Linked DNA regions of Homo sapiens: all the other regions are linked to region 1. Evidence: fine-mapped expression QTL. A gene starts in region 1. Each other region holds a variant in brackets. All regions are shown on one strand. Distances are between the middles of the regions. Region 1 holds the start of TMEM71 (transmembrane protein 71). Region 2 overlaps TMEM71 (transmembrane protein 71). Region 3 overlaps TMEM71 (transmembrane protein 71). Region 4 overlaps LOC105375771 (a long non-coding RNA gene). Region 5 overlaps PHF20L1 (PHD finger protein 20 like 1).

Region 1 (6,195 bases):
ACCACGCCCGGCCAGAATGATTATTTTTTTAAAAGAAGCCCCATAGTATACCTTGGGAAAATGCACGTGGGAGACAGCTCTCCAGCATATTCTCTTTCCAACCTGGAAGAACCTGCATAAACAAATGAGAGAGAAGTAGAATGTATCATACCTGATCAACAGTTACATATGTTGATACATGTATCAATATGTATAATTGCAAACAGTGGAGGCATGTAAGAAGATGGGAATAGCTGATGTTCCAGCTTCAGCAGGAAGACTCCAGTAGTGCAGGTACCCTTATCACCAGGGATCTACCGGAAGCAAGACATAAACTAGAGGCTTCTATCTTCTGTTCCTTCATCCACATAACACTCTAGAAGTTCCGGGCGCAGTGTCTCACTCCTGTAATCTCAGAATTTGGGAGACCGAGGCGGGCGGATCACAAGGTCAGGAGATCTAAACCATCCTGGCTAACACGGTGACACCCCGTCTTTACTAAAATATACAAAAAATTAGCAGGGCGTGGTGGTGGGCGCCTGCAGTCCCAGCTACTGGGGAGGCTGAGGCAGGAGAATGGCGTGAACCTGGGAGGCAGAGCTTGCAGTGAGCTGAGATCGCTCCACTGCACTCCAGCCTGGGCGACAGAGCAAGATTCTGTCTCAAAAAAAAAAAAAAAAAAAAAATTTCTTAGTGCAGAATGAGGCAATAATAAATCATTAGCATCAAACTGAGCTCATGTAAGGATGGGAAAAAACGTCTTGTGTGAAGCAGGAGAAAACCCAAATCAATTACCCAATGTGTTGGTTATTGCAGCTTACTCAGTAATCTGAGGAATTCAATCATTGTTCTAGACTCTCCCTCATTAGTGCATATTAAGACACTTCTACTGTAAAATAATGAGCAAAAGACATTAGTGGGGAAGAAATAAAGTTTTGTTTTGTTTTATATAACATTTTTCCAAAGTATAAAGACTGTGAGTATTCTTAATTATAGAAACATCATCCATTCATTCGTTCCATTTTAACCAAAGGCGTGGCAACAGACTTTACTTGGAGAAAGTTGGAGTTGATTAATATTCTAAACTCTAAAGCAGAATTTTATCGTGTGCAGAGATGGTGTCAATAGTCCTAACAGACAAGCTAGTGAAATTTGATTCCATTATGGACAATTAGTATCTAGGACAAAGAAAGGAATTTAGACTTTCAGATTGGGCTGGTTGATTTGTAGGGAGAAAACTGTGGGTGTGTGAGGGAGAGTTAGAAGTGGGGTTTTGGGAGAAAATAACAAGAGGAAGGAAGAAACTTGAAACCACTACCGTTTTAACAGCGCTCTTATTTTCTGCAAGTAGCTATCAAAATCATTCAGCATTTTTTATATACAAACAGTTTTGCATCTTAATAGTAGCTGATAAACAATCTCCTTTCACATTTATGCACAGGCATCTAAAAAAAAACGGTGATTTTTTTTTTTCTACTAGAAGGAAAAATACCACATTTCTTTCAAGGAAAAAAATGAAGTTAAAATCATTGCCAAAGTGAACACTGGCATTTAAGAAGCACAAGCTACTGACAGATGGTTAATGGTCTGAGTATCAGCAAAATCAAAGCAAGGAAATTGCTAAAAGGAGTCTAATCGTTCAAAAGATAATTGCGTATCACAGTTCTTCTACATTTACTTGCTACTGGTGTTGACATCAGTTGAGATATTCGGTACATCTTGGGAAGGCCGCTTGCTCAAACTTCACAGATTCTCTGCAAAAGATGTTAAAAAAAAGGTGGACTATATATTAAAAATAGAAAAATTATGCCAAAACAGATGGCATCTACTAATTGCACTAGTCAGATTTGTTTACTGAAATAATACAGAGATACAGAATTGAAGGTAGGAGACCAGACTGAAGACACAACCCCTCTAAAGTTGTGTCTGCCTCTATGACTGAACATTTTCCATTGCCTCACTCAGTGCATCTCAATAACATTTTTCTGTAAATAAGAACCACACTTTATTTGGAAAATCTAGACTTAAAAAGGTTGATTTGTAATCCAAAGAAAATAATGAAAGTGAGGTATTTGATTAAGAAATCTTAATAAAATGACTGGTTCTAACAGTCATTTAGCCCCAAAACAAACTTACGTGTATTTTAATCATCTGACACAAGTCAACTTCATTATCAAGTTTCAAACAGTGCTTGGAGATTGGTGTCTGTCTTTTTCCCAACAACTTGAACCATTGACAGGTAGTCACAGAGAGTGATTTTAATAGTTTTTATCAGCCTGGACATTCCTAAACAGCATAAGTAATGTTGCACTAAAGATAGCATACCATTGGGAAGATTTTAGAACTTAGTTCCCATGAAGACATGATTTAATTTCTCAATTACTAATTAAAAACATATCAAAGTATGTAAATTATGCAAACTTTGATCATTTACTGTTCATCAAATAGAACCAACTTCTGTTGACTATGAAACTTTGTATATAGTATCACTATCCTAATCGCTTTATAAGGTAGGAGTAAATTATTTTCTGATTCACCACTTATGGCCACATTTTGTAACATGAGAACTAGTAATGGATTGTTTTTGTAGCTGTAATTCAATCAATCAAACCAGGCTAATTCTACAGCTTCAAGTTGAATATTTCAATAAATTATATATAAACCCTATTAGGAAAATATAAACCTGGTTTATAGAGACCTGTAAAGATGTCAGGAGAACTTTCTGGCCTTCCTTGGAAGATTTCTAAATCAAAGCACACATTTACAAATTTCATTTGTTTGGGATATAAAATAATCCCAGTGTAATGTAATATATTAGTATGTTACTTGTTCTTTTCATTTTTGATCAATATTGTACGGGTATGCCCAGCCCAAATTACCTTATTTTAGTGTTCCCCAAGTATTAAGCTTAATTTTAAGCCTATAAATCCTGCAGCAAAAGAAGGTCTTATTGCTCTATCTCACAAGTGCTTAGAAGAATCTACAGGCAGTACACTGACATTCAATAGAAAATTAGTAACAGTAGGAAAAAAAAAAGCCCTTCAGTTACAGATCTAAAACTTTTCAAGAAACAGAATCTGCCAGTTCCATCAAAGCGACACATCTATTCTGAAAAATAATGTGTGCATACGTGTTCCTTCCAAAGGGAGTTCCCAGCCTCTTCTTCCAATTGACAAAGGACAAAATTATTACTGAAATACGAAGCTTCCTGTGGTTGACAGTGGAAAAATTGAGGACTGAGCAGTTCCTCGGCTGAAAAATGTCTGAATGTCAACAGGTGCAGAAGTCTCTTAATAAAGGGAATCCCACCCTACCTTCTTCTCACAGATGCCCACGCACATTGCTGTGCACAGGTGCTTGCAGAGAAGTTTTGTCTTCGGCAGCCTCTTGTTCTCTTGTCTGTTTCCTGGTATAAATGAGTGTATAGTTCTTGGGAAAGTCAGTCTTACAACTTCTCTTGTTTTCTTTTGAAAACAGCCTGCGTAACCAGAGGCAAAGAAGCAGAATGAGGTCACACTTCCTGTTGGGCTCACATCAGTGGCATTCACACTGAGGAGTGTGCTGAAGATTTCAGAGAGTTTCCTGGGCCAGCAGCAGGGAATGTGCAGCCCATGTGTCAGGCCAGCTGGTTACACCCTGGTCACTGGAGGGGTGGTTTTCTGAGCTAACTTGTCACCTTTGGCTGCGAGAACGTGAGAAAGACTCAGCGAACTGACATTTCTTGCTCATCATATGGCCACATTCAGTTATAAGTAGTGCAGAGTAGTGATCTTTGTCCAAATCACTTAAATTTATTGAGGATAATGCACTGATGCTATTAAATTCAGAATACTATTAAATAGCAAGAGCTTGATCTTATGAAAATTTCTATAGAGGCAATAGGTTTATCTAATGAAGGTTGGACTTCACAAAAAACTCTATAGATGGCATTTTACATTTACATTATAGTAGAGCTCAAAGACTTGATGGTGTTTATGGGTTCATACACATCTGTACTACTGTAAGTGATAAAAGAAATGTACATTCAAATATATATTCCAGCAACATTGAGGTACCACTGCATAGTGGAAAGAGTGCGGATTCTGGGGTCACAAGACAGAAATTCAACCTGTCTACCATCCTAGCTGTGTGACCTCAGATTTGTGACTTACCCCTCTGAGTTGCAGTTTTCTCAATTATAAACATAAAAATATATATGTCATATGATGGCTTGAAGAATTAAATGAAATAAAAGAAATGAGAAATAATCGAGTCCTCAGCACAGATGTGCAAGGTGTATTCTTTATTTGTTTTCTTAAATCAAGTTCTCTTCTGAGGCACCAGTTGGTCCGGCTGGCGGAAAAGTTAATCTCATCCTTTCCTGGGGTTCCCTTTCCCCCTGAGGTTCTGCCACATGGCAGGATCTTCTGTAGAACATGTTCTAGGCAGCAGGAACTGTCAGGAGGAGGGCCCATCTAATTTCAAAGTTCTCTGTCTCTGGAACTTCATGTCTATTCTCCATCCCTTGAGTGTAGACTGAGGCTGCTGACATGCTCCTTGTAAATAAAGTAAGGCAAAGGTGCTGAGTTTCCACTACCATGATGAGGCTTCCATCTTGTTGGACTCTATTACTTTCTTGCTTGCCTGCTTTGATGAAGCAAGCTGCCATGGTGGAGAAGCCCATGTGTCAAGGAATCAAGAGTGGTCTCAAAAGCCAGTAAGGGTCTGATGCTCCATCCAACAGCCAGGAATCCAGCCAAAAACCAAGTGTGTGAGCTTGGAAGTGGATCCTTCTCCAGTTGAGCCTTGAGCTGACTGCAGCCCCATCTAATGCTCGATTGGAACTGGGAAAGACCCAGAAGCAGACAACCCAGGCTAGCCCTGCCCAGCTCCCTGGCCCACGCAAACTGGGAAGTGACAAATGGTATTTCAAGCCACCACGTTTTGAGGTAATTTGTTACACAGCAACACATAGCAGATGCATAGTCCTAACACAGGTCACTTCCTGAGCCATCTGTCATTGCTGACTCTCTGCTGCTTTAGTGACTCCTGTAGAATATAGTCACATTTACTCAAGGCTACTCCTGGTCACATCTGCCTAAATTTAACAGACAGCTATTCTGCTTCACAGCTGTCTGGTATTCTCTTTACTGGAATTCACAGTTCTCTTCTTCTCCTTTTCCTGTTTTTCTTATCCCTCATCCTCCCTCTTCCAGCCTTGGCTTATCTCTTCTAGATGAGGGAGGAAAATCTTTCTGACTTATTCGAGACCCTCTGCTCTTCCTGTGCCCACAAATCCACTTTTCCGAAGAGCTCACATCAGAAAGACTTTGGTCTACTTTTTTTTTTTTTAAAGATCTGGCACATATTAGAACCTTATTATTAATGATCATAATAATTGCTAACTTTAAGGAGTGCTTACTATGTACCAGGCACTGTTCTAAGGTCTTTCCACATATCAACACATTAATTGTTACATCAATTCCATGGGAGATGCTGTATTATTATTCTCATTTTACAGAAGAGCAAACTGAGTTTAGAGAGTTGCCCAAATTCACATAGCCAGTACGTGATGAGTAAGTAGAGCTAGGATTCAAACCCTGATGAGATGGCTCTCGAGTTTGCTTTCTTAACCTATAAGTGTAATGATCATATCCAACGTGTGTCAGCATTTTCTACAAACCAGGCACTGCACTAAACACTGTACATATGTAATCTTGTTTCAACCTCACGTAGCCCTAGAAAATAAGTGCAATTGTTATCCACATGCAGGACAGAGGTTTATAGAGTTTGCATAAATCTTTCAAAATTGCCAATGGCCAGAACTAAATTCCAAACCTATGGTTCCCCTCTCAATCTTCTCTCTTGAGACCCACTCATCTTCTTCTTGTTTCTCATACACTAGACACGGGTCTACTTCAAGATCTTTGAGGTTAGTGTTCCCTCACCCTAAGGGTCACAGGGCTTTCTTCCTCCCCTCCCTCAGCTCTTTTCTCCACTGCCTTGCTACTAATTAATTGCCCTCCACACCACTCCCTAGTCTCTTCCTGCTTTATTCTTCTCCTTAGCACTTTTTACCAAGGAATATGTCACACAATTCATTCCTTGTAATAAGAAACGTACTCCTCAGCCAGAACATGAGCATTAAAAGAGCAGAGAATATTGTCATTTTGCTTCATTTTAATAGCCCAAGTATCAAGAGTAGTGCTTCCCATATAGTAGGTTATCAATTAATGT
Region 2 (6,195 bases), 30 kb before region 1:
CCACCCGCCTCAGCCTCCCAAAATACTGAGATTACAGGTGTGAGCCACTGTGCCTTCTTATGTAGTATGTCCAATACACAGCTAAGAATTAAAATAGCAAACATCTGTGTATCTTCCACTTTGCTTTATTGAAGCCTAACATTTTACAAAATATTCTCAGAATTTTTTTTTTTTTTTGAGATGGAGTCTCGCTCTGTCACCCAGGATGGAGTGCAATGGCGCGATCTCAGCTCACTGCAACCTCTGCCTCCTGGGTTCATGCAATTCTCCTGCCTCAGCCTCCCGAGTAGCTGGGACTATAGGCACCCGCCACCATGCCCAGCTAATTTTTTGTATTTTTAGTAGAGACAGTGTTTCACCATGTTAGCCAGGATGGTCTTGATCTCCTGACCTTGTGATCCGCCCGCCTCGGCCTCCCAAAGTGCTGGGATTACAGGCCTGACCTGCCGTGCCCGGTCTCTGAATATTTTTTAAGTAAAACACTGCAGATCCAGTTACTGATGCCTCTAACATGACACCCAAAGGCAGTCATCTCCTCTGCAAAGGGTCACCTGGGCTTTGGCAGAGGCCCCATGTCCTCCCTTCCTCGCACAGGTTGGTACCAGCTCCTAACTGCATTTTAGTCATCTCCAAGTCATTCTCAGGCTCTGAAAGGAAGAATTCTTTGGGTGTGGCAAATATTTAAAACACCTGAACTCACCTGAATGATCCGAACTATTCTCTTGGAAACGTTCAGAAGCTGTCAACTGGGACTGAAGAGACAAGCTATGGGAGTTTCCTCCAGGAGGCTGAGATATGATGTGGCTGGAAGAGGAGGTGATCACAGACTCTGCATTCATCTTCCCTGACTCCCAGTCATCAGTCAGAGAAGAACAGTCTAAATCATCTGCTGAAAAAGCAGAGGGGTTCAGTGTGAGTGTGTGTGTGTGTGTGTGTGTGTGTGTGTGTGTGTTCAGTGACTGCTCAATGCACAGTTAGTTCCTAATAATCACAAAAATAGTAATATTGATACGGTATTGCACTACCATAGTGGGATGGGAGAAGGATTTTTGGATGAGATGAGATGATGTATTCGTCTGTTTTCATGCTGCTGATAAAGACTTTCCTGAGACTGGGTAATTTATAAAGAAAAAGAGATTTAATGGACTCACAGTTCCACATGGCTGGGGAGGCTTCACAATCATGGTGGAAGGCAAGGAGGAGCAAAGTCACATCTTACATGGATAGTGGCAGGTAAAGAGAGAATAAGAGTCAAGTGAAAAGAGAAATCCCTTGTAAAACCATCAGATCTCATGAGACTTATTCACTATCATGAGAACAGCATGAGAAAGACCCATCACCATGATTCAATACCCTCCCACCAGATCCCTCTCACAACATGTGGGAATTGTGGGAGCTACAATTCAATATGAGATTTGGGTGAGGACACAGGCAAACCATTTCAAATGGCATTTCAATTTGTCTTCATACTTGAAGGTTGAAGAGAAATATCTTCAGTGCAGAGATAAACAAAGGCCAGAGGCATCTTCAATGACACTGAAGTTTGTATAGATGGATTTAAAGGATATGTAGTCAGTATATGAACCTCACATCTTTATAGGACCAAACTTTACAGCAGTCAACTCTTTCTACTTCTGATTCATTTATTCATTCAACATTTATTGAATGTGACTATATATTAGAAACTGACCTAGCTGCTGGGATATAGTGGTGAATTAGAACAACATCTCTGTCCTTACATATTGCTGAGTGGCAGGGAAGAAAATATCTTGTGATAAGTGTCATGAAGGAAATTCTGCCTCTATAAAATACATTGAAATGCCTAGATAAAATATAGCAACCATCTGTTTAAATTTTTTTATTCAAAGAGGCTATTTCATACACACATAGCTTCAAGAACATGCACCCATTTTCTCCTATGATGATTCATACATAAATATATTTTACTTGCCCTAAACTTAGCCTGACATTCTCACAAAAAGTCAAGTTTATTGCAAAAGCATGCATGCAACTTCAAGTTTCAAACATGCTAAGATGATTCCTCATAACACTTGGTGTCTTCAATGTGAGGTCACCAAGGAATGAATTTTAATCCTTGATTCTTAGTTTGAGTCAGAGATTAGGGGATCCAAAACTCTATAAGCCAAAGCTTCCTTGGAAAGGATGAATGTGTTAAGAATGCCTTTCAACCACAGGGATAGTTAAGCACCACACCTCTGACTCAACCACTGGAAGTCTCCCATTTGGCTCACCTGGCATAAATGTACCTAGGAATTCTCTTGGTTCTGTCTTGAGTGGTCTGTGTCACATTCCAGGGTTTAACTTTACTCTTATGATCTTGGGTAAGAATTCGTGCCAGTTTAGAGCTCATTGACTTGGAAGCAAAGCCACTCAGAAAGAGTAGCCAGAGTCCTGCTTTGGGATGTAGGTGTTTTCTAAGCTGACATCTAAAAGGGACTGCACATGCCCAACAAATGTACTTTTCTTTATAGCTGAGCTCAAAAGAAGGAAATATTCCCAAAGGCCAAGCCAGGGAAACCTATAACTCTAAGCATACGCTGTGGACAAAGCTGCCAAAAGGGGTGGGGAGAGGGCCTTAGAAGTCATAGTAGTCAAAGGTCTATGGATTAAATGACATTAGGGACAGAAAAAAGGCCTTGGTCTCAAGAGAGGCAGAAAATTAAAACCGAGTTTCTGTAGGGACTCAAAATGCTATTTCCTCAATGAAAGGATGGCTAAGAAAAAAAATCTGCCCACTAGTTCTAGGAGAAGGCATGAAAGCTTATCTGTTTTGGCCTATGTAGTGGGTGGGAGGAAAATGTCTCCGCCAACACTTTATAAGTAAGTGGGTTTTCAGTTAAATTTTTTTTTTTTTTTTGAGACGGAGTTTTGCTCTTGTTGCCCAGGCTGGAGTGCAATGGCGCAAGCTCAGCTCACAGCAACTTCCACCTCCTGGGTTCAGGCGATTCTCCTGCCTCAGCCTCCCGAATAGCTGGGATTACAGGCATGTGCCACCATGCCCAGCTAATTTTGTATTTTTAGTTGAGATAGGGTTTCTCCATGTTGGTCAGACTAGTCTTGAACTCCCGACCTCAGATGATCCACCCACCTCGGCCTCCCAAAGTGCTAGGATTACAGGCATGAGTCACCATGCCTGGCCTTGAGTTAAAATTTATACTAACCTGGGAAATTAATATTTTAAAAAGTCTCAGGCTGGTACTAGCCCTGTGATATCTGCCAGAAGCCAACATAAAAGCTCTCTGTGGAAACACACTCTCAGCCCAAGCTGCACAGATTTCCCCAGATAAAGCCCAAAGGACATGAGCTCACAATCTAAAATTATAAATTATGCAGGGAGATAATCTCCTATGGGTAAGGAGAATAAATATGATGCTTCAGAAAAAGATAATCCTGCAGTGGGAGATGATGGGAGTAGCCAGGATGTTACCGTCTGGCTTTAAGCTTTGAGCAGGAGGCATGATGTTTGGAGAAATTGTCCTAATTTATTTTACCTTGGGGAAACTCTGAAGACCTGTAAAATTTGTGTTTTTTGTTTTTTTGTGGTTATTTTATACCCATAGTATGTCCTTATTTTTGCTTCTTGTCTAAACAGGACAATTACTTCTATGGTCC[A/T]TCTAAGCCTTGATTTCATGACTAAGGGAAATATGAATATCGACTGGGCAAATATTTGGTAAACTTATGAACTGTAGGACACTTAGGAGGGAAACAAGGGAGAATAAGACACTGTCCCAAAAGAAGTTGAAATCTAGGGTGTGTGTGTACATGTGTGCATGTGTGTGTTTGTGTGTGTGTGCATGTACACATGAGTCAACAGTGGGAGGCAATAAAGAAGGCATCACTTATGGACAGGGGAAACAGACTATCATTTGCTAAAAAGAGATGAAATATGGTTTTGTGGAAATTTCAAGGACTTTGGCATCAGAAAGACTGAAACATACATTCTAATACTAGTAACAGGGCACTTTGCTTAATTTTTCTGATCCTGAGTTTCTTCATGTAAAATAGGATAGTAATGTCTACTTTTTTACAGCTGTGATAAGTGAAGGAGAAGAGACAAAAATGTAAACATACCAACATATAGTTTAGATGGAGAGAATTGAAACTTCTATTGCTAATAGACATTATAATAGATATAGACCCTAGTTACGTGACCAAATGTGATAATCAACTTCATGGGGAGTAGGGGGTGGTAGAAGGGTGCTGATGAGTCATCAAACGATGTTTCAAGGTGGAAGTGATTTTTAAGAATTTATCATTCAATAATAAAAGAAGCTTATTACTTGACCTTGGGGAAGGTAATATTTACTTTGAATTAGATATGCAGGAATTTGCTATACCATGAAGGGACTCCTAAACCTGCTCCAGACATTTCTAGGCACAGGGTTTATCCCATATGGCTGCTTACTTGCCCCGACTTCACCATAGGACAGGGTCCTCTCTAGAAGAAAGTGCCCCAGCAGAGGGTAAAGACTGTAATCTCTGCCCCCTGCCTCATCACAGAGCTGAACAGGCATAGCAAGAGGGCCTCTGGGAAAGACCAACCTGACCTGGTGGGGAATAGCCACAGTTCCTGAGAAGGGTTTAGAGACAGGGACAAAAGAAAAACAGGGAGGAAGAAAGGAAAGAATCAAGAAGGTGATTTTTACCATGTAGTAGGAACTTCAAGGGGAACAAGCAGGGGAATCTGAACAGCCCCAGTTAACAAATAGAAACTTTCTCTGCCTTGATTGCTGTCATGGAATGTCTGGAACATAAAATGACTAAGGAAAGATACGAAACCAGCTGGGAGGAAAGACTGAAGCAGCCCCCAGGTGACATACCCAGAGAAGACCCCCAAGCCAGAGGAATTGGGAGGTGGAGCAAAAGTAAGGCGGGAGGCAAAAGCTGCATGGATACGGGCCAGGCAGATCTATTTATTCATTCAATGCAGTTATTGTATATACTGCAAATGCTGCTCTGGAAGAAGGAAGTCAAATTAGATATTGCTCTGCCTTACTCATGATCTGGAGAGGGACATACATGCAAATGAACAATTAGGATGCAATGAGGTAATTGCTACAACAAAGGCTGGAACAAGTTATCCAGTGGGAATCTAGGAAGGGGTGTCTGAGTCTGTCTGAGGGAAATCCAAGGAGGCTTCACAGAGGAGGCAGCGCTTCAGTGGAAACTGGAAGGATGAGTAACAGTTCTTCCAGAGAGACAGCAGGAAGAGGACAGGCCAGGCAGAGAGGAAGAGAGTAAGTGGGGATGGGGAGAAATTACAATACCTCAATCTATGAGAGACCAGGGTGGGTTCCCAGAAGAGTCCTCCTGTGTAGCTAGACAAGAGCATGTGCATGAGGTCAGTCCCAGGAGATGATTCTGTCTGGGCTGCTAAGCAGAGGTCACATTGTGTGGGGTCTCATGTCACACTCCAAGCTAATATTGATTCTGTGGGTGATTTAGAGTCATTAAAAAAATCTGAGCATGAGTGTAACATGAGTTGCTTTGTGTGTTAAAATGCTCACTCAGCAGTGAGAGATTTGCGAGATTCCCAGTCTCCCATTCTAGGAGCTGAGTGACTATGGGGCTCCAAGAGACATTGGGGTCCTCATACAACAGTAGTTCTTAATAGGGGGTGATTTCTCCTCCCCGGGGACATGGTGCAATATCTTGAGACAGTTTACGTTGTCACAACTTGGAGTGAGGTGAGGGGTGTTACGGGCATCTACTGAACAGAGGCCAGGGATGCTATTAAACACCCAACAGTGCACAGGGCAGGTGCCACAACAAGACATTACCTGCCCACGATACTGTGATGCTGAGGCTGAGAAACCCTGTCATTGAGAGAGCTGACCTAACCGTCTAAGGCAACTGGATCATTAGAGTCCTTTCGACAACTCTGGTAGGTGCTTCAAGTGAGAATCACGTGTCTGTATTTTCCTGGTTGTACTTAATCTAGTCAAAACACTCTGTTCTCTGCCTTCAGAGGACAGATCATAATTTATGATTTTATCATTGTTACAGAAATACAGACAATAGAATACATAATTTCTGTGTGTGTGTTTTTTTGTTGTTGTTGTTTAGTGTCTGTCTCCCTCACTAGACAAAAGGCTCCGTGAGAAAAAGGTCACTTCATCTGTCCCAGACACCAGCAATTAGTACCCAGCTCATAGTTAGCATTCAGTAAGTTTT
Region 3 (6,195 bases), 23 kb before region 1:
CAAAATAGTCAAACTCATAGGAGCAGAGAGTACAATAGTGGCTGCCAGGGGATAGGGGTTTGGGTGGGGGAAATTGGGAGCCATTGTTCAATGTGAATATGGTCTCAGTTACGCTGGAAGGATGAGTTATAGAGATCTGCTCTACAACGTAGTACCTGTAGTTAACAACATGGTATTTATTAATAAGGTAGCTCTCATGTTATGTTCTTACACACACACACACACACACACGCATACACATACACACACACACAGAGACACAGGCACCTTTGGGACATGTTGGGTATGTCTATTACCTTGATTGTGGTGATGGAATTCACAGGTGTCTGCATATGTCTAAAGTCATAAAATTGTACACATGAAATATGTGCAGTTCTCTGTATAGCAATTACACCTCAATAAAGCTGTTAAAAAAAAGAGGAGGCTAGCTGATCAAATCAATGTGGAAGTGAGAAAGAGATGGGAACTTCCACGGCTAATTATGTAGTCATGAGTGCCCCTTAACTACAATCTGGGTAGATGTGGACGAGACTGTAACAACAGTAAAAAGATGTGCTGTTTCCCAGGGCTGCCCAGTTGAATATAAAGCTTTGCTGCTGAGAGTTGGATGAAATAAAAAATATGTAGAATACTGGAAATTGTACATAAAATTTTCTGAAAGAAAATATGGTATTCAACAGAGAAACCACAAAAAAGTCTTAACATTCAAAAACGATCAAGGAGATTTTTCATCTCTGAAAAGACATGATTTAACCCAAACTCACTTTCCCTAATTGACAGTGAATTTTCTTCTCCAAACTTAATAACAAATAAAAGGATTATAAGGCAAAAAATATTTTACCAAATAGCTCTAGTTGTATTATTGTTGAAGGTATCTATTTCATTCTGTTTAACTTGATTTCTAAATTTGATGTACTTTACCTCTGTTGGGAAGATTCTGTATCTTCTAAGCACATCTTCCATATCCTTTTATATAAAAATGGGCATTATTTGCTATAAAGAGAAGCCCAAAGCCACATACTGATGTTGCCATCTCAAAGATATTTATGTGACAGGCATGAGTTCTAGAGAAAGGCATGCACCTCAAGCTCAGGTGACTTGCCTGGAGTCAGCCTGCCTTTTCCAGGACTGGCAGAAATAGAGTCCATCCTGTTCAGTCCTCCCTGCGTGAATCCTCTGCTCTCTTTCAGTATGACTCACAGGCTCTGGGAACACATCCCGAATTGCAGTATTGGGGCCTGGGTAGCTGCAAAATTCCGTGGCTCAAGAATGAATTGCAACTAATGAGGAAAGGTGTCAACACAGCTGGGAAAGGGGTGAACTGAGGACAAACAAAACAGGCAAAAACATCCTCTTGCCTGAAAAATGAAGCACAAGAAAATCAGGGGAAGTAATGTTTGATTGCATCCATTGCTCAGAGAGAAAACAGCAAAACAATTTAATTTTGATTTCTTCTGGAGTCTTCTAACTAGGCATTTCCAGAGAAAAATAAATTGCTGATAAAAGTCACGGGGCCTTGGGTAAATCTGGAAAGCAAGAAGTCTGGGGAAGATGTGATTACTCTGACAGCAGAGATGAAAGATTTCAAAGTTCTGTGTGCGCCCAGGTTGACTAATTACTGATTTTGGATGGAGGTAGTTTGATTTGTTATATTTAGAGGATATTTGGAAACCATGAGAATTTTAATAAGATACCTCATGCACGTGCAGCATTGCTGTGGTCCAATCCCTTTGAAATTGTTTGGACATATTTCAAAGAGACAACGAAGGAAAAATTAGATGTTAATTTCTAAATATGTGACATACTGTCTTTAGAACAGTGATTCTCAGACTTTAGTCATCCAGGCATTATTTTCCTGATTTTTGCCAAATCCCAGAACCTGCTTGCTCTCAGCCATTTAATATTTTCTTAAGATTGTCTCATTTTACATTTTTACTTTAAAGCAAACTTTATAACAGTCACGTAAATGCCCTAAACAGAAAGTAAAGGTAAAAATAAGTACAATGGAAAATGTAACCTTATTTAATACGTGTGAAATACTGGTGTAGCAGAAAGCTCTGAGCCTGTTCTTGGTTAAGAAGAACTTTGTTAAAACCAAAGAGATTGTAGCAAATGTTAGAGAATCTGACAGCTACCAAGGTTCTAAACTGAGCCTTGGTCTTCTTGGTTTTATCAGAAGGATTGTAAGGGAATTGGAAGAGGAGCCACAACTTCTCTCTTACTGTGTGATTCAACGTTCACTGTTGCTCTGTGCTAGCAGCATTTCCTACCCTACCCTACACCTTAGAAAACATTGCTTTAGAACTGAGAAGACACTTGCCTTGTTGCTCCAGAAAAAAACAGGGGAGAATCAATGGATGGACACTCCAAAAGGCACATTAGAGGTGAGCCTGAGTAAGCCATTCCTGGAGCAGCAGTAACCACTGAGAGGAAGAGGCAGCCTCAGAAAATCATGAGTGGGTGGGGTAGGAGATGGGGAGATGTTGGTCAAAGGGTACAAAATTCCAGTCAGACAGGATGAAAAATGTTCTGGAAATCTATCCTATATCATGGTGACTAGAGTTAATAATAATGTGTTGTATTCTTGAAAATTGCTAGGAGAGGGCCAGGCATGGTGGCTCACACCTGTAATCCCAGTACATTGGGAAGCCAAGGAGGGCAGATTACTTGAGCTCAGGAGTTTGAGACCAGCCTGGCCAACATGGTGAAACCCCATCTCAACTGAAAATGCAAAAACTTAGCCAGGCATGGTGGCTCATGCCTGTAGTTCCAGCTACTTGGCAGGCTGAGGCAGGAGAATTGCTTGAGCCCACGAGGTGGAGGTTGCAGTAAGCCAAGACTGGACCACTGCACCCCAGCCTGGGCAACAGAGTGAGACTCTGTCTCAAAAAAAAAAAAAATTGCTGAGAGAGCAG[T/C]TCTTAAATGTTCTCACAACAACAATAACAAATGGTAAGTATACGAGGTGATGGATATGTTAATTAACTTGATTTCCCCATTTCACAGTGTGTACATATGTTGAAACATCACATTGCCCACTTCATCAACAACACCTTAATTAAACATTTTATCAAAATGAAACAAAATAATGAGAGTCCAAAATAGGCAAATCCACGGAGACTGAAAGTAGATGAATATTGGTCGTCAGGGGCTGGTGGGGAAGGAGGAGTGACTGCGAGTGAGTATCAGGTTTCTTTTTGGGGCTGATGGAATGTTCTGGAACAGGAAAGCAGTCGTGATTGCATGGCCTCCCTGTGACTATACTAAAAAATCGCTGAATTGTATACGTTAAGTTGGTAGATTTTAAGGAACGTGGATTATATCTCAATTAAAAAGTAACGAGAGCTCTGTACTAAGATATTTGTGCCACTCTGTCAGAAAGAGTCAGAGAGATAACTTCTCCTTTGCCTTTGGAGGGAAGATTCCACACATAACACATCTACCAGGGACTACAGAATTCTTGAGTTGACCTCCTTATCAAGCTGTGCTTCATTAGCCAGTTCTTCATATTCTTTTCTTTCATAACACCACACTCTCTTGCTTCCTTGCCTGAGAAACTTTCCCCAAAGAGCTTTTTCCCAGGATTAAGAGCACATGCTCAGACTTTTCTCTTCAAATCCTGGCTATGCGACTTCTTACCTGTGTGGCCTCATATATAGTACCTAAGCTACCTTAGCTTCTTCCCCTGGAAAATGGGGATAAATAATAATAACTCAGAGGCTTTGCAGAGAAGTGATGACGTGACATGTGGCTTTCTTGGAACTGTGCTTGCCCCTAGCACTCACACAATTAGGGATCATTATTACTGGGGCTTCTGTTCAACCTCCTGAATTCCTTTCTTACCGCTCCTTTCTTCTCATTCACTTGTTTTCCATAAGTAGACTTCTTTATTCCAAAAAACTGTATTGCTTCTCAGATTGGCTTATGTATCAACTGTATTCCTTCTCAGATTGGCTTATGAATTACTCCTGAACCCCCTTCTTATGTTTCCAAACCTCTACTGGTTATCTATTTCCCATAAGATATCTCAAATTCAACCCATAAGAAATACAATTCATTGTCTGTTTTGATGATCCTCAGCTGTTCTTTTCTGCCTTTTTAGAGCTAATGTGTATTAAGCAGAATACCAGCCCCTGGTATTCATAAGAGATATTAGAAGTGTGACATTTTTCATGAATTATTGCATTTCATCCTCCCCATTCTATATGCTATTTTTTTATTTTATATATAAGAAGTAGAGGATCAGAGAGGTTAGTTAATAACTTGCCCAAGAACATTCAGGTGGGAAAAGCTGGTTCTAGGATTTGAATTCAGGTTCATCTAGTTCAAAAGCTCATTTTCCTTATCACTCTACCACACTATCTTCCAGCCCTTGGTGACTTGCAGAATTTTTTATGCAGTCTCCCAAATTAAATACCTCAGTTTTCTTTGATTCTCCCACGTTCTCACTACTATATTCTATCTATCACTAACCTGTCAATTCTACCTTGGAAAATATTCTTTAAGTCTCTTCCTTCCTCCCTATTTCCTGCCACTTCCTTAGGATACTGGTTGATTTTAATTGCCTCAGAGCTCCCATCCAATCCTCAATTGTGCTACTGCAAAGATAACTTGAAAATTCCAAATCTGATTGCATCATCACCCTGCTTAAGAGAATCAAAAAATATTCTTGATTGATTAGATAAAACCCCAAATCCTCAATATGGCATAAAAGGTTCTTCAAATATCTACAATTAATATTTCTGGCCTCACCCCCCACATCCCTGCTCTTTCCCCTCTCCTCTTCCTGCTTTTACACTCTTGTTATTGTGGAAAACTAGAATCACTCAATTTAAGTAATCCTTTGATCATATTAAGAACTGTTTCTTCATTTAACAAGCACTTATTGCATTCTTAAAACTAATCTAGTATTACATGCACACACACACACACACACACAGGAATATATGTAAAAATTGGTGGAATCTTCATGGCATTGTGCCAACGTCCATTTCCTGGTTTTGATAATGTGCTATAGCTGTATAAGTAGTTATCAGTGGGCAAAGCTGGGTGAAGCATACACTGACCCTCTCTATACTATTTTTTGTAACATTTTGTGAATCAAAGTTACTGAAAATTAAAAAAAAATGTTACGTGTGTCTTCTGTCTAGGAAGCAGATTAAGAAAAATCATAGCCATGTAATTATTATACACTTAAGTTAATAGATTATTGCATTATACGACTCCTCTAGCTTGCTCTTTCGGCCTGCACTATGAGGGACATGATGGATTTCTCCTTGAAAAGGAAAACAAAGCCCTTCCGGGCAGCAGAGCAGAGTCTGGACTTTTAAATCAGATAGACCTCGGTTGAATTCCAACTCTGCTGTTTTTGTTTTTGTTTTTGTTTTTGAGATGGAGTCTCGCTCTGTCACCCAGGCTGGAGTGCAGTGGCGCGGTCTCCGCTCACTGCAAGCTCCGCCTCCCAGGTTCACGCCATTCTCCTGCCTCAGCTTCCCGCATAGCTGGGACTACAGGTGCCCGCCACCATGCCCATCTAATTTTTTGTATTTTTAGTAGAGACGGGGTTTCACCATGTTAGCCAGGATGGTCTCGATCTCCTGACCTCGTGATCCGCCTGCCTCGGCCTCCCAAAGTGCTGGGATTACAGGAGTGAGCCACCGTGTCAGGCCCCAACTCTGCTGTTTATAAGCTAAATTAACTTGGGCGAGTTCCTTAACCCTGAACTTCAGTTTTATCATAATTATAATAAATATGATAATATGACCTACTTCTTATGAGTTTTGGGGATATTTAAACAAGATAATGTATGTAAACAAGCTAATATATTTTAAAAAGACAAAATGTGAAGTGCTCAGCATGGAATAAGCACCCTTGACTTCTCTTTTTCTCTCACAGCCACGTAGGCAAATCTTGTTGAGTCTACCTGTAAGACGAATCTGGAATCCTACTTCTCATCACCATTCTGCTATCATCTCAGTTCAAGCTGCCATTATCTCCCACCTGAATCACACCAATAGCCTCTTAACGTGTTTCTTGCTTCTGCTCCTAATAGCGGACATCTAATCTGAACTCAGCAGCTGGAATAATCCTTTTAACATGTAAATTGAAACAAGTTATTCCTCAGCTCAGAATCCTCCAGTGGTTTGCCCTCCACTCAGAGTATGAAAGCAAAGCCTTTGAAATGACCCCACAGCTCCC
Region 4 (6,195 bases), 580 kb after region 1:
GAAGTCCCTGACATGGCCTGGCGCGGTGGCTCACGCCTATAATCCCAGCACTTTGGAAGGCCAAGTCACATGGATCATGAGGTCAGGAGTTCAAGACCAGCCTGGCCAAGGTGGTGAAACCTCGCCTCTACTAAAAATACAAAAATTAGCCAGGAATGGTGTCAGGGACCTGTAATCCCAGCTACTCAGGAGGCTGAGGCAGATGAGGCAGATAATTGCTTGAACCCGGGAGGCAGAGGTTGCAGTGAGCCAAGATCGCACCACTGCACTCCAGCCTGGGTGACAGAGTGAGACTCCGTCTAAAAAAAAAAAAAAAAAAAGTTCCTGGCACAAATTATACAAGTGCTAGCTATTATTTTTATTATCATTATTTACTATTATCTACCTATCTCCCGCCAAACCCTGTATTAACCACGGTCTGGCTAGTGTGAGTTACATAGGTGTACTACCCTACCCTGCATCCATCATTTGTTTACTGTACAAAAATTACTTCATATCCCACCCTACTTAAAAATGTGCTACTGAAGTCAAGCTAAGGGTATGAAAAAAATGTGCCGGTGGACATTCATGCAAGTAAAACAGTCGTTTATGATGATCTAAGCTCAGAACCTAGCTACATGTTACATAGACACTCAGACGGGCTTTTGTGCACACTGTTAATATTTCCTAAATGTTCTAGGAAGCAACTACAGTGTAAAGTGAGAGAAGCTTGTGCTTTGTTTGGTCTGGAGTTCTTTCAAGAGTCACTTGCTGTTTGGGAAAATTACAACACTCTCAGCAATTCTACTCATAGTCTCTGAATCACCAGCAAAACACACCCAAGTTGGTCTGTGTTTGTAAGTGTGCATTCACAGTGGTTCCTTATTTATAGGTGTTGGGAATCTGATTGTTTCATCATGTCTTCCAGTGTGGTCATGCCCAAGCACTTGCATATTTAGAAATATACTACAAATCATTTTTATTCCATTTCTCCTTTATATGTAAAAGCACATCATATCTATTGTCTTAAAATTACATATGTAAGGAGATCATAGGATCTATAATTTGGATTCAGATAGTAAAGAATATCTACTTTACAAAGGGGAATGGAGTCATGAGTTTTAGTTCTTTTCTAGGAAATAAATGGGTCAGAAAGAGGAAGCTTGCACTGGCAGAGGGTGTGGTGGAATTCCAGGTATGTAAACAGCATTTAGAGAAGTTACCCTATGCTCCTCTATCATTCTTCCCTAGCCTTCTGAACTGTATTTTCTTCCAGCTTCTAAGACACAGGCAGTATCTATGCATCTTTGCCTTTTAAATTATCTAGAAACAATTACGTTTCTTGGTCCTTGTATCCCAATGGGTTTGGGTTTTTTTGTTTTTTTTTAGAAGAAACAGCACTGGGTTAGGAGACAGAGGACCTCAGTTTGAGTCTTCTGCTGGTGACCTCGGGACACTGCACTTGTCTGGGCCTCTGTTTCCTCATCTGCAAAAGTGAGAGTAATCACCTCATTTCTGAGCGGGGAGTGTTTTGAGCTCTGTAAGGGGCCACGGGAAAACAAGGCAGCAGGCCCAGGAGGGCCAAGACCACAGCCCCTGGAAATAAATCAGGCTCACTGCAGAGCAAGGCGTGCTGGAAGGAGCTCAGACTAGCTCTGCCCCACAGCAGGCCCTGGGACTCAGGTCTGCTCTCTGAGCCTCAGTTTCCCCATCTGCAAAGCAGGCACAGGGGCAGAACTAACTAGATGAACTCTAAGATTCCTTTGCCCACAGAAGCCCTGTAAAATTAATTAAAGGTAGATTTGTCCATGGAAAGGAGAAATATATTTATTCAGAAGAGATAGTTTCTGTGATGGTTTAATTTTGTGTCAACTTGACTGGGCCAACGGGTTAATGCTCTGATTCACCAATTTTTTCCAGGTGTATCTGTGCAGATGTTTCTGGATGAGACTAGCATTCAAGTGGGGGAACTTAGTAAAGCAGATGGCCCTTCCCAGTGTGGGTGGAAACCATCCAATCCATCGAGGGGCTGAATAGAACAAAAAGGCAGAGGAAGGAGGGAAAGATTCATCCCTTTTGCTTCCTGCATGCCTGGTTGAGCTGGGGCATCTCATCTTCTCTTGCCCTTGGACCGGGACTTATAGCGTCAAATTCCCTGGTTGTCAGGCCTTTGGATTCAGGCTGGAATTACAGCACTCACTTTCCTGGGTCTCCAGCTGGTGGATAGAAGATGGTGAGAATTCTCAGCCTCCACAACCACATGAGTCAATTCCTCACAATCTTTTCATTAATTTATATCTATATCTATATATCTATATGTCTTTCCTATTGGTTCTGTTTTTTTGGAGAGCCATAATACCTTCTATTCTAATGATGGAAAGATGTTAAGCCCCAGTTGTTCCACATGTCTGGTAATTGCATTGGAAGAAACAGTCTCCTAGTGGAAGGTGACGGTGGTCATTTCCACATACCGTGGAAGCTCTCAGACAAGGGACATTGTATCTGAAACACAGGCAAAGGGCTGTCACTCATACCCTGGGTTAGCACCAGAGACATACATTCTCTCATTTGACTCACATCTGTTCTCTCTAACCATGCTCCGTGCTGGATGCACCACTTAGG[C/T]CACTCTAGGTCAACAAAAGAAGCGGGTACAGAGAAAAGCTGAGCCCAGGCTCTGTGCTAACTGTGATGACTGAGGTAGCTCAGACAACTATAGGAAGGAGTACAGAGCAGAGTCACCTAACCTAGCCAGGGAACGTAGGTGTCTGGGGAAATGCCAAGGAGGCACAATACTTCTAGATAAAGAGAAAGTTTGGAAAGCATGGTAGTTCCAGGCAGTGGGAACAGCCTGTGCAAAAGCATGGAAGCATGAGAAAATGCGGTGGGTTTTAGGAATGATTAATAATCATATCTGTTGGGCATAAAACAGGGGATTTGGAAAATCTAGAATTGAGGCTGATTGAGTAGATAGAGGCTGGCCAGGAAGGCCCTTGTATACTCTCATGAGTAGTCGTGATTTGCCTTTAGGCAATTGGGAGCCATTGAGGAATTAGAAACAGGAGGTTGACATAATCAGATCTGTATTTTCAAAAGACCTTGATGTCTTCCACTATGTGTGGAAACACCAAGTCAGGGAGAAAATGCGAGGCAGAATGAAAACTGAACCACGACTGTGTCTATGGGAGTCAATGCAAGACTGATCTGAAAGATACTATAGGAGGAAGAAGAGAAAAGGGAGATCAGAGGGCAGCCTGGGTGGCTGCTATCAACAAGTCCTTGGGCAGGGAATATTGCCCAGACACGTAGAGGATAAATGTAAGGCATTTGAGATATAAGATGATGATGGGCAATTGATGTAGGACAATGTCACATTAGTCTTTGTGTCAATCCTGAAAGTTGGGGATGTTGGATTTTCAGAGAGAGAAAGTGACTTGCCCAAGTTCACACCTCCAGGAATCCAGCTATGATTACAAGTGCCCTATATTAACTGGGACCTTGAATGACAGAAGTTTGAGAAGCCCTACCAGAAGCTCTCAGTGGCCTGCTGCTGTGTCATTGAAATGTATTTCAGTGTCTAAGAGAAACTGCATTGTCCTCCCGGCAGCCCTGGACTGGACCCTGTAATATCATGAGCTACTCTGGAAGAGGAGAGACAAAGTTCACTGCTCTGAGCAGCAGGGTCTTTGGTTGCCATGTGACTGAAGATGGGTACAGATTTTTTTTTGTAAACGTAATAAAAATCAAAAATAATAAAACGAGGTGTGATTTCTTCCATGAAAAACCATAAAATCTCTCTCATAGTCTCCCAGTCTGAATGCCTCCTTCCTTCTCTCTCCCCTTTGGCTCATGAATTTCTCATTCCTGCCAAATAGGTCGGTTGAGTTGGAAACATTAATTGTTTGCTCTAGTGGATGCCAAGGTTCCTGCCTGGCCTTCCTCATCTGACCCAACTTCATGTGCCTTTCAAAGCCCAGCTTAGATAGCCCCTTTTCTTGGACCCTCCCTGCTGCCCAGCCATGCCCCCACTGCACACATGCAGCTAGGTGAGGTCAGTCACTGCCTCTTGAGCCCTCCTCAGCTCTGGGGAGACCCTCCTCCTCTCAGCACCTGCTCCCATGGCCTTCCCCCTTAGACTCTGAGGATCCTGTCCTGGAAGTGGGGGCCTTGTCTTCTCTGCTTTCATATCTTCCTTCCTAAAATGACTGCCACCAAAATGCTGAATCAATGGACAAATGGATGAATAAATGAGTGGATTCAGAAGATGCTAGTGAGGTGAACTGTCATGAACACACTATCTCTGAGACATTAAAAATGTTTCATTAAGTTATTTTTATAAAACACACATACCATACACCATGGAATACTATGCAGCCATAAAAAATGATGAGTTCATGTCCTTTGTAGGGACATGGATGAAGCTGGAAACCATCATTCTCAGCAAACTATCTCAAGGACAAAAAACCAAACACCGCATGTTCTCACTCATAGGTGGGAATTGAACAATGAGAACACATGGACACAGGAAGGGGAACATCACACACCGGGGCCTGTTGTGGGGTGGGGGGAGGGGGAGGGATAGCATTAGGAGATATACCTAATGTTAAATGATGAGTTAATGGGTGCAGCACACCAACATGGCACATGTATACATATGTAACTAACCAGCACGTTGTGTACATGTACCCTAAAACTTAAAGTATAATAAAACAAACAAAAAACAACAACAACAAAACACACATACCAAGCCCAAAATATCCTTACAGTGCCCAAGGTTGTAAAATGAAAAGTGAGTCTTCTTTCCAGCTCCCAGGATCACTCTGCAGAAGGTGCTGCCCACAGGCGTCTTCTTCTGTTTTGAGACATTTCCCTTTTACATTCTTTACACAACTGGAGGCATGCTGCACAAACTGTTCAAATAAAAGAAATAAAATAAAAAGAAATCTTTTCGTTTCTTTTAACAATATCATGGAGATCGTTCCACACCATTTTCTGTTCAGAGTTATGGAGTTCCTTTTTACGTATGTATAATAGTTTATTTGGCCAAGCTTCTATTGGAAGACAAGGATGACATGCCAATTAATATTCTCAACTCCAGGGCTTCTTAGCCTTCATCCTCCCTAGCATTAGGTACTCTTTTATTCATTTTGGACCTTGCTGGTGACTTCTGGATGAAAGAGATGGTGTTGTCAGTCAATGTGCATTCAACTGTTCTATTTGCTTTGTGTTTACTTAATAATTAATGTTTTTAAATACTTTTGCCAACCACGGTGAAAATACTTCAGAGACAGGGACAATATCATACACAATTACTGCTCTCACGTGGCACTAAATACATGTCTGAAATGAATGGGTAAATGAATATCTGGGTGCTCAAACCTGGATGATAAGAGTTGGGAAGGGTTGGCAAATATTTTCTGAAGCAAGGTCAGTGGCTTAAAAGCCCAATTGATTAAGATATTTCCTGCATTATATTCCACCAAATCAATGAAACAATTCATTTAATCCACTTTCTATTAATGGCTGGTTAACTTCCTTTCAATCCTTTACTATTATAAACAATGCTGTGTACTTTTCCGAGTATTTTCCTATGAAATAGCTCTAGAAAGTCCTAAATGACAAATTGCTGAATCAAAACATTCACTGTTTTTAGAAGTTTTTGATATATATATGATTGATTTTTTCCTCTAGAAGATTTGCAGATATTTTCACTCCAACAGGGACCTCTGAATCTTTGCCATACCTTGTTCCATCCTTGAGCAGGGAAAAATGTGAAATGTAGACATGTGTTTCCCCAATTATTAGTTCTGTCGAGCATACTTTTACATGCGTGTTGCCATTTGTATTTCTTATGTGAATTATTTGTTCATTTCCATGGCCCATTTTTCCACTGGGATTTTGCCTTAGTTCTTTCCTGGCAGAATGTCACTGTGGGGTTTCCAATGAACCACGTCCCCTGGTGTGTGTGCCCTTGTTCCATTCCCCCTTGAATCTGGCCAGGCTGCTTGGGTGACCCACTCTAACTGACAGAAAGTGGCAGATGTAACATTGGGACAGTTTCAGGGCTAAGCCTTCAGAAAGCCTGGTAGCATCTGCCTTTGCTCTGTTGGAAGCCAGCAGCCATATACCAAGCCCAGCTACCTTCACACCCCCAGACTGTGAGAAGTCCCAAGCAGCCACATGGAGAAACCACGAGGGAGAATGCTGACGTCCCAGTCA
Region 5 (6,195 bases), 72 kb after region 1:
GAATTGAAGTGGGGAATACAGACAGGGTGCGGAATGCCAAGTTTTACCTATTAAATATCAGCCATGTTTTATTTTAGTACAAAATTGAGATTTCTTTCATTGTTTTTACAATCAGATTCTGCTTCTACTTTTACTTTTGCTGAAAGGACAATATATAATGGAGTTGATAAGAAGGCAGCCTTGAAGGTTTAGTATAGGTATTCAAATCCTGCCCGTAACACTTACAGCTAAGCGACCTTTGACAGGTTATTTAAATTCTCTACATCCCAGTTTCCTTTCTTCTAAAATAAATGGTAATTGATAGTTTTATTGCATAGATTTATTATTCGAATTAAATAAAGTAATCATTGTAAAGTACTTGATACAGTACCTGGCATTTAATAAATGTCCTTTCCATGTCTGGGCCTAAGTAATATGGTGTTGGGCAAACTGTGGTTATGGTGAGGCCACTGGAGTCAGAATAGCGTAGTGCTGCCCAAAGACTGCTGTAATCTGACAGCATCAGCATCATCTGGGAGTGTTTCATTCCCAGTGCACTGGAGATGAGGCCCAGGAATCTGGGGTTTAACAAGCTTGCCAGCTTGTGCACCCTTTAAATGTTGAAATACACCGATATCACTTATTTGTTAAGAGTGTAGCTTCCATAGTCAGGCTGCCTGGGTTTGAATGTTGGCTTTGCTATTGATAGTTGTATATTCTTGGGCAATTTGCTTCATCTGTCTTGCCTCAATTCTTTACTAGCAGTCCTACTTCCCTCATTAGATGCTTGTGAGGATTAAAAGAGTTAATACACATAAAGAACTGAAAATTGCATTTGGCACATAGAGAGCCCTCAATCAGTGTTGGTTGTGCCGTGGTATTTATGATGATGAGTGTAAGTTTCCCATTGCTGCTGTTGCAAATTACTGCACATCAGTGGTTTAAAAAAATATGTATTTATTATCTTAAAGTTCTGGAGGTCAGGAGTCCAAAATGGGTCTCTCTAGGTTAAAACCAAGGTATCAACAGGGCTCCATTTTTCTCTGGAGGCTCTTAGGGACAGTCTGTTTTCTTGCCTCTTCTAGTTTCCAGAGGCTTCTGCATTGCTTGGCTCTTGTCCTGCTCCCATCTTCAAAGTCAGCAGTGGTCCAGTCTTTCTCATCTTGTTTCACTCTCACGTCATCTCTTCTGCCTCCATCCTTTCACTTTTAAGGACCCTTGCCATTACATTGGGCCCACCCATATGATCCAGGATACTCTCCCTGTTGTGAGGTCAGCCGATTAGCAACCTTAATTCCACTTTTCCACATAGCTTAGCTTATTTAAAAGTTCTAGGGTTTAGGACATAGACATTTTTGGCAGACTATTCTGTCTCCCACAGCTGCCACCTTCAAATGGATACTTAGCACAGACCAATGCGTCTCTTATAAGCTCACTTTTCCACTCTCTGTCTTTCCTTTTTCCCACTCGTTTCCATCTCTCATTTCCACCTCTCATGTATTCCCTAACCTGCGTCACTTGACATCCTTTTCCTCACAGAGTTGAGAAGACAGACATCATCAGGTGGGAACTTGCTCATACTCTATCTACCACATCTGCATGCTTACATGAAAATATTCATCATCTTAGCCTCTATTAAAATGGAGGGAATGTCTGCTTTTCTTAATCTAGCATTTCTCACCACTGCCATCCCCCTTTCCCACATCTTAAGGTTCATGTAGGTAATGTGTAAGATTTCCCATCTTACAGAGCCCTCTTCTAAACTTCTGTTTCTTCTCTGGTTTCTCCACCTTGCATTTACTCTTCAGCCCCATCTCATACCCACTTTTGTTGCCTTGTTGCTCACGCATAAACCTGGAAATCAATCTTGATAATGCCGTCTTAGCTCTCGGCCTCCAGTCTATAACAGCACTCCATCTTCCTTAAAATCTTCCCCTTATTTGCCATCACCCAAGTTCTGAGCCACCAACATTTCTTTCCTGGACTACTGCTGTAGCCTCTGAACTGTCCCCCCACTTCTATGTGTGCCTTCCTGCATTCCATCCTCCATTCCACAGCTAGAGTGATCCTCTGGAAATGAAACTGTCACATCTTGCTCCTCCTCCACATAAGCATTGAATGACTTTTTATTGCATTAGGGTAAAACTTTTTAAAAAAAGCTAATCTGGCTCCTGTCACTCTAGCTTTGTTTCTCCCTTATTCACTGTGTTCCAGCCAGTCTTACAGCTTGCCAAATGTGGCATGCACTCTTCAGCTTCAGAGCCTTCCCACATGCCTGGAATCACACCCCCACCTCCTTTTTTCCTTCCCTTACTATACCCTCAACTCTCCAGTAAGCTGCATATGGCCTCTCCCCTTGCACACATCTGTGGGACTCATTACAAAACTGAGAAAAACAGAATTTTTACAGAGTTCTTCCAGGACTAGTTAATTACCTTCAGAGATTTATTACTTGAAAAATTTATTGATCAGATTATCACTGTATAATTGGTGTGCCAGACATCAGGAGAACCTCTTTACGAATTGTGGGGAAGAAAAAAGGTGAATTTCCATCTTGCATATCTTTTTTTTTTCCTCTTCAACTTTTATTAGGTTGGTACAAAAGTACCTCAATTACTTTTGCACCAACCGAATAAGTTCTGGGGTACATGTACAGGATGTGCAGGTTTGTTACACAGGTAAATGTGTGCCATGGTGGTTTGCTGCACAGATCAACCCATCACCTAGGTGTTAAGCCCAGCACGCATTAGCTGTTCTTGCTGATGCTCTCCCCCACTTCCCACAGGCCCCAGTGTGTGTTGTTCTTCCCCATGTGTCCATGTGTTGTCATCTTGCATATTTTACTGCAGACATAGTTGTGATTATAATGGAGAGAAAATGTGAAATAATCCTTTTTCACCTCTATAGTACTTCACAAAAGTTTACAGGTACCAGTTAGAACCTGGTGCCCCCTACTATGTATATATTGTCTGGGGTATATTTGTTTCCCAAGTGTTCTTGCTAAACCCAGTTCATCAGATCCATATGTAGCTTTTCATGGATGAGAAGCGAAAGTGGTAGCATGATTATTTGGTGTATCCTGAAACATGACTTTCGTTATTTTTATAGTGACCTTAATTATCTGACACTTTATTAATATTTCTTTCTGTATCTTATGTTGCAGACTATTCAGACTATGAAGACAGTTCCCTCGAATTTTTGGAAAGGTGCTCTTCTCCACTAACTCGATCTTCTGGGAGTTCTCTGGCTTCACGAAGCATGTTTACGGAGAAAACTACAACCTATCAGTACCCAAGGGCAATTCTATCCGTTGATCTTAGTGGTGAAAGTATGTGTAACCATGTGATGGTTAAAACAAGACTTACAATTCCTAAATGTGTAACTGAGAATAAAA[C/T]GTACTCTGTTAAGAGCATGCGATTTAAAAACTTGTTAGCTAAACTAATATGAAAGTCTTGATGTGAGAAATTTGAGCTACTTTTTAATTTATATAAAGTTAAATTGGCTTTATACTTATTGGTGGAAGAGAGTCATAAGGAAAATATTACTAGTGTATATACTTCTGTAGGTTTTTGCACATATATTTTTATATTCTTCACTATCAACTGACAGAGTAGGTATTATTCACATTTGATATATAAACAAGCCGAAACTTACAGGGTAAGTAGCTTTTCGGCTTAGCTAGTGTTAGAATTAAAACTCTAACCAAGGTCTGTCTTAACTCCGTAGATAATGCTTTCTTAAATAAACATTTATGGTAATCTTAAAAGTATACTTTGAATTCCTGGTCAGATACATCTGTAACCAAAGTCCTGAGATGTAGTCAGACAACTGATTTAAACACAGGCAGGAACTAAGCGCCCTTAGGTAGTCAGAAGGCCACGTCAGCAGTGAAGGGAGCACTGGAGTTCAAATCTGTTAGACTTTCCTGCAGGTCCAGTCCTGACAGTGGAAAGTGTTGAAGACTCTTACCTTGCTTCCAATATTGTAAGCAATAGGCACAGAGATCCCAGCTGTAGACATTGAGGGCTGTGGCATAAGAGTAGAGCTCTAATGCAATAGCAACCAGAGTCAGAGAGTGAGGAATAAGGGACGGGGCCTTCAGCATAAGTACAACCTAGGATCCTTGTGAGTGAGCTCACTTCCTCCCTTTTTCTTTCTTCTGACTGACCTCGATGGTGGATACTAGGTTAAATGTTTGCTTTTGCACCGTTTGCTTCCAGGTCTAAGTCCTCCCTGGCTCGTTATGGAGAAAGCATTTTCTTTCCTTTATAGCTCATGACACTTGTGAGATTTTATTTTTAGAACCTTGAGGTATGGGAGGGGATTAAAAAAGAAGTTACCACCACCCTTTTCCAGCAAATACAAGTCTACTTTTTCCCATGGTTCAGTGGTTCTTCACCCCCGGTGAACCTTACAATCATTGCTGCGGTTCTTCTAAACTATACTGATCATGGATCCTACCATGAGGCACAATTGAATGAGATTTCTGGAAGGATCCTGGCAAGATACAACTTCTAGGTGATGCTATGGAGAAGCAGAGGTTGATAATCACATTAAGAACATCCTTACTGTGAATCATCAAGATCTGAAGATTATCTCTTGCTATAGAAAGATGGAGAATAGGGGTTATATCTAGGCTAGTTGTGGTGCTGAAACAAGAACCCTTGAAAGAGCATGAAAAGAGCCATAGATGTGTACTCTCTGTTCTTAGTCTCTGCCCTGCCCTTATGATCAAGTACTAAGTCAGGAGAAAGAAAAGGAAAATTAATAAGGCCTTAGGCCAGAAATTCTCAATGTTAGCATGTGTCAGAACTGCCCAGAGAGTGTGTTAAAACACATTTCTGGGCCTCACCCTCAGAATTTCTGAGTTCCAGCAAGTTCCCCGGTGATGATAAATGTTGCTGATCAGGAAACCACACTTGCAAAATGCTGTCTCAGGAAATAGCAATGACAATTTAAGGGGTAGTTGCTGGAAGGCAACAGCTGTTCTTGTGGCCACTCAGTTGGAGCCATTGTCTAGGTGGCTATTCAAGCGTAAGGGGGAACTTTTATTTGCTTCTTACATAACTTTCAGCTCTGTCATCCATTTTACTCAACTTCCAAAACTCAGCTAAGCATAAGTTTAATGCTTGGGAGTTATTCAAACTAGATTTGTGGAGAATATGATAAATTTGCTTGCTAACACCATAAAACTGGTAATCTTTGCCATGCAAGTATATGTGAGATACACTAATTCCTTTCAATGATATAATTTCAAATTAATTTTTATTTATTTATTTATTGAGGCAAGATCTTGCTCTGTTGCCTAGGCTGAAATACTGGTGTGATCGTAGTTCATTGCAGCCTCAAACTCCTTGGCTCAAGCAATCCTCTTGCCTCAGCCTCCTGAGTAGCTAAGACTACCAGCACAGGTCATCATGCCTAGCAAATTATTTTTGCTTTTGTAGAGATGAGGGCTTGCTTTGTTGTACAGGCTGGTTTCAAACTCCTAACTTAAAGTGATCCTCTCACCACGGCCTCCCAAAGTGCTGGGACTAGAGGTGTGAGCCGCTGTGCCCGGCCCATTTAATACTGTTTATATGCTGCAACAGTGTTTGAAACTGTTTTACCCACATTCCAATGAACTTGAGAAAGCCCAAAAGAAAATTTGGATTTAAGCCAGCAAGATTATGGATGGGTGAAATTTTCCTCTTTAGGTTCTTTTAAAACAAGTTATACTGTTCATACTAGATTTTCCATATCTAGTTGATTTACTAGCTCCATGAATATTTTCAGATATTTCTTTATTATCTATTTCTGCTGACCTTCCTTCCGTATGTCCCTGTGACTTCAAAGAGAAGAAAACTTTATTTTTCTATAAAACATTAATCAACAACAAAACATTCAAAAACATTGAATGAAGAAAAAAGTAAGCAAGATTAGAAGCTGATAGAGGAAACACTAAATCATGTGAAAAATGTAGAGTATAAATAGCGTGAATTTTTAAAGTTCAAATCTGTTCAACTTCGGTCCCATCTGATTAAGTCTGAAAAGAAAATATTCTCTCTCTGACTCTCTCCTTAGTTCTTCTACAAACATTCTGGAGTGGCTATATTATATATCAGGCCTCATTCTAATAACTGGGGATGTAGCATTCAACAATGCAAAGTTCTTGCTGTCATGGATTCTGATATTCTAGTAAGAGAAGACAGATGATAAGCAAGTGAAGAGATAACT

Evidence for each region. PIP is the estimated chance that this variant, and not a neighbour inherited with it, causes the effect.
Region 2: its variant is the best candidate, but not a certain one, in a credible set for the expression of TMEM71 in whole blood (TOPMed, PIP 0.53).
Region 3: its variant is the best candidate, but not a certain one, in a credible set for the expression of TMEM71 in whole blood (TOPMed, PIP 0.72).
Region 4: its variant is the best candidate, but not a certain one, in a credible set for the expression of TMEM71 in whole blood (Lepik 2017, PIP 0.84).
Region 5: its variant is the best candidate, but not a certain one, in a credible set for the expression of TMEM71 in whole blood (INTERVAL, PIP 0.77).

What each region holds. Positions count from the first base shown.
Region 1 is chr8:132,757,183-132,763,377 of GRCh38, forward strand. It overlaps TMEM71 (transmembrane protein 71), which reads right to left and starts at 3,400. Exons shown (of 10, transcript NM_001382403.1): 1 at 3,294-3,400; 2 at 1,658-1,733; 3 at 52-112. The coding sequence starts at 1,697.
Region 2 is chr8:132,727,098-132,733,292 of GRCh38, forward strand. TMEM71 (transmembrane protein 71) reads right to left here. Exons shown (of 10, transcript NM_001382403.1): 6 at 701-889. Among named protein-coding and RNA genes, the nearest start is that of TMEM71, 30 kb to the right of the region's middle. The variant A/T (reference allele first, on the strand shown) is at 3,634.
Region 3 is chr8:132,733,945-132,740,139 of GRCh38, forward strand. The region is part of intron 5 of TMEM71 (transmembrane protein 71); the gene reads right to left. Among named protein-coding and RNA genes, the nearest start is that of TMEM71, 24 kb to the right of the region's middle. The variant T/C (reference allele first, on the strand shown) is at 2,916.
Region 4 is chr8:133,340,466-133,346,660 of GRCh38, forward strand. LOC105375771 (a long non-coding RNA gene) reads right to left here. Exons shown (of 3, transcript XR_001746096.2): 3 at 4,290-4,886. Among named protein-coding and RNA genes, the nearest start is that of NDRG1, 46 kb to the left of the region's middle. The variant C/T (reference allele first, on the strand shown) is at 2,602.
Region 5 is chr8:132,829,093-132,835,287 of GRCh38, forward strand. PHF20L1 (PHD finger protein 20 like 1) reads left to right here. Exons shown (of 21, transcript NM_016018.5): 15 at 3,143-3,307. Among named protein-coding and RNA genes, the nearest start is that of TG, 35 kb to the right of the region's middle. The variant C/T (reference allele first, on the strand shown) is at 3,374.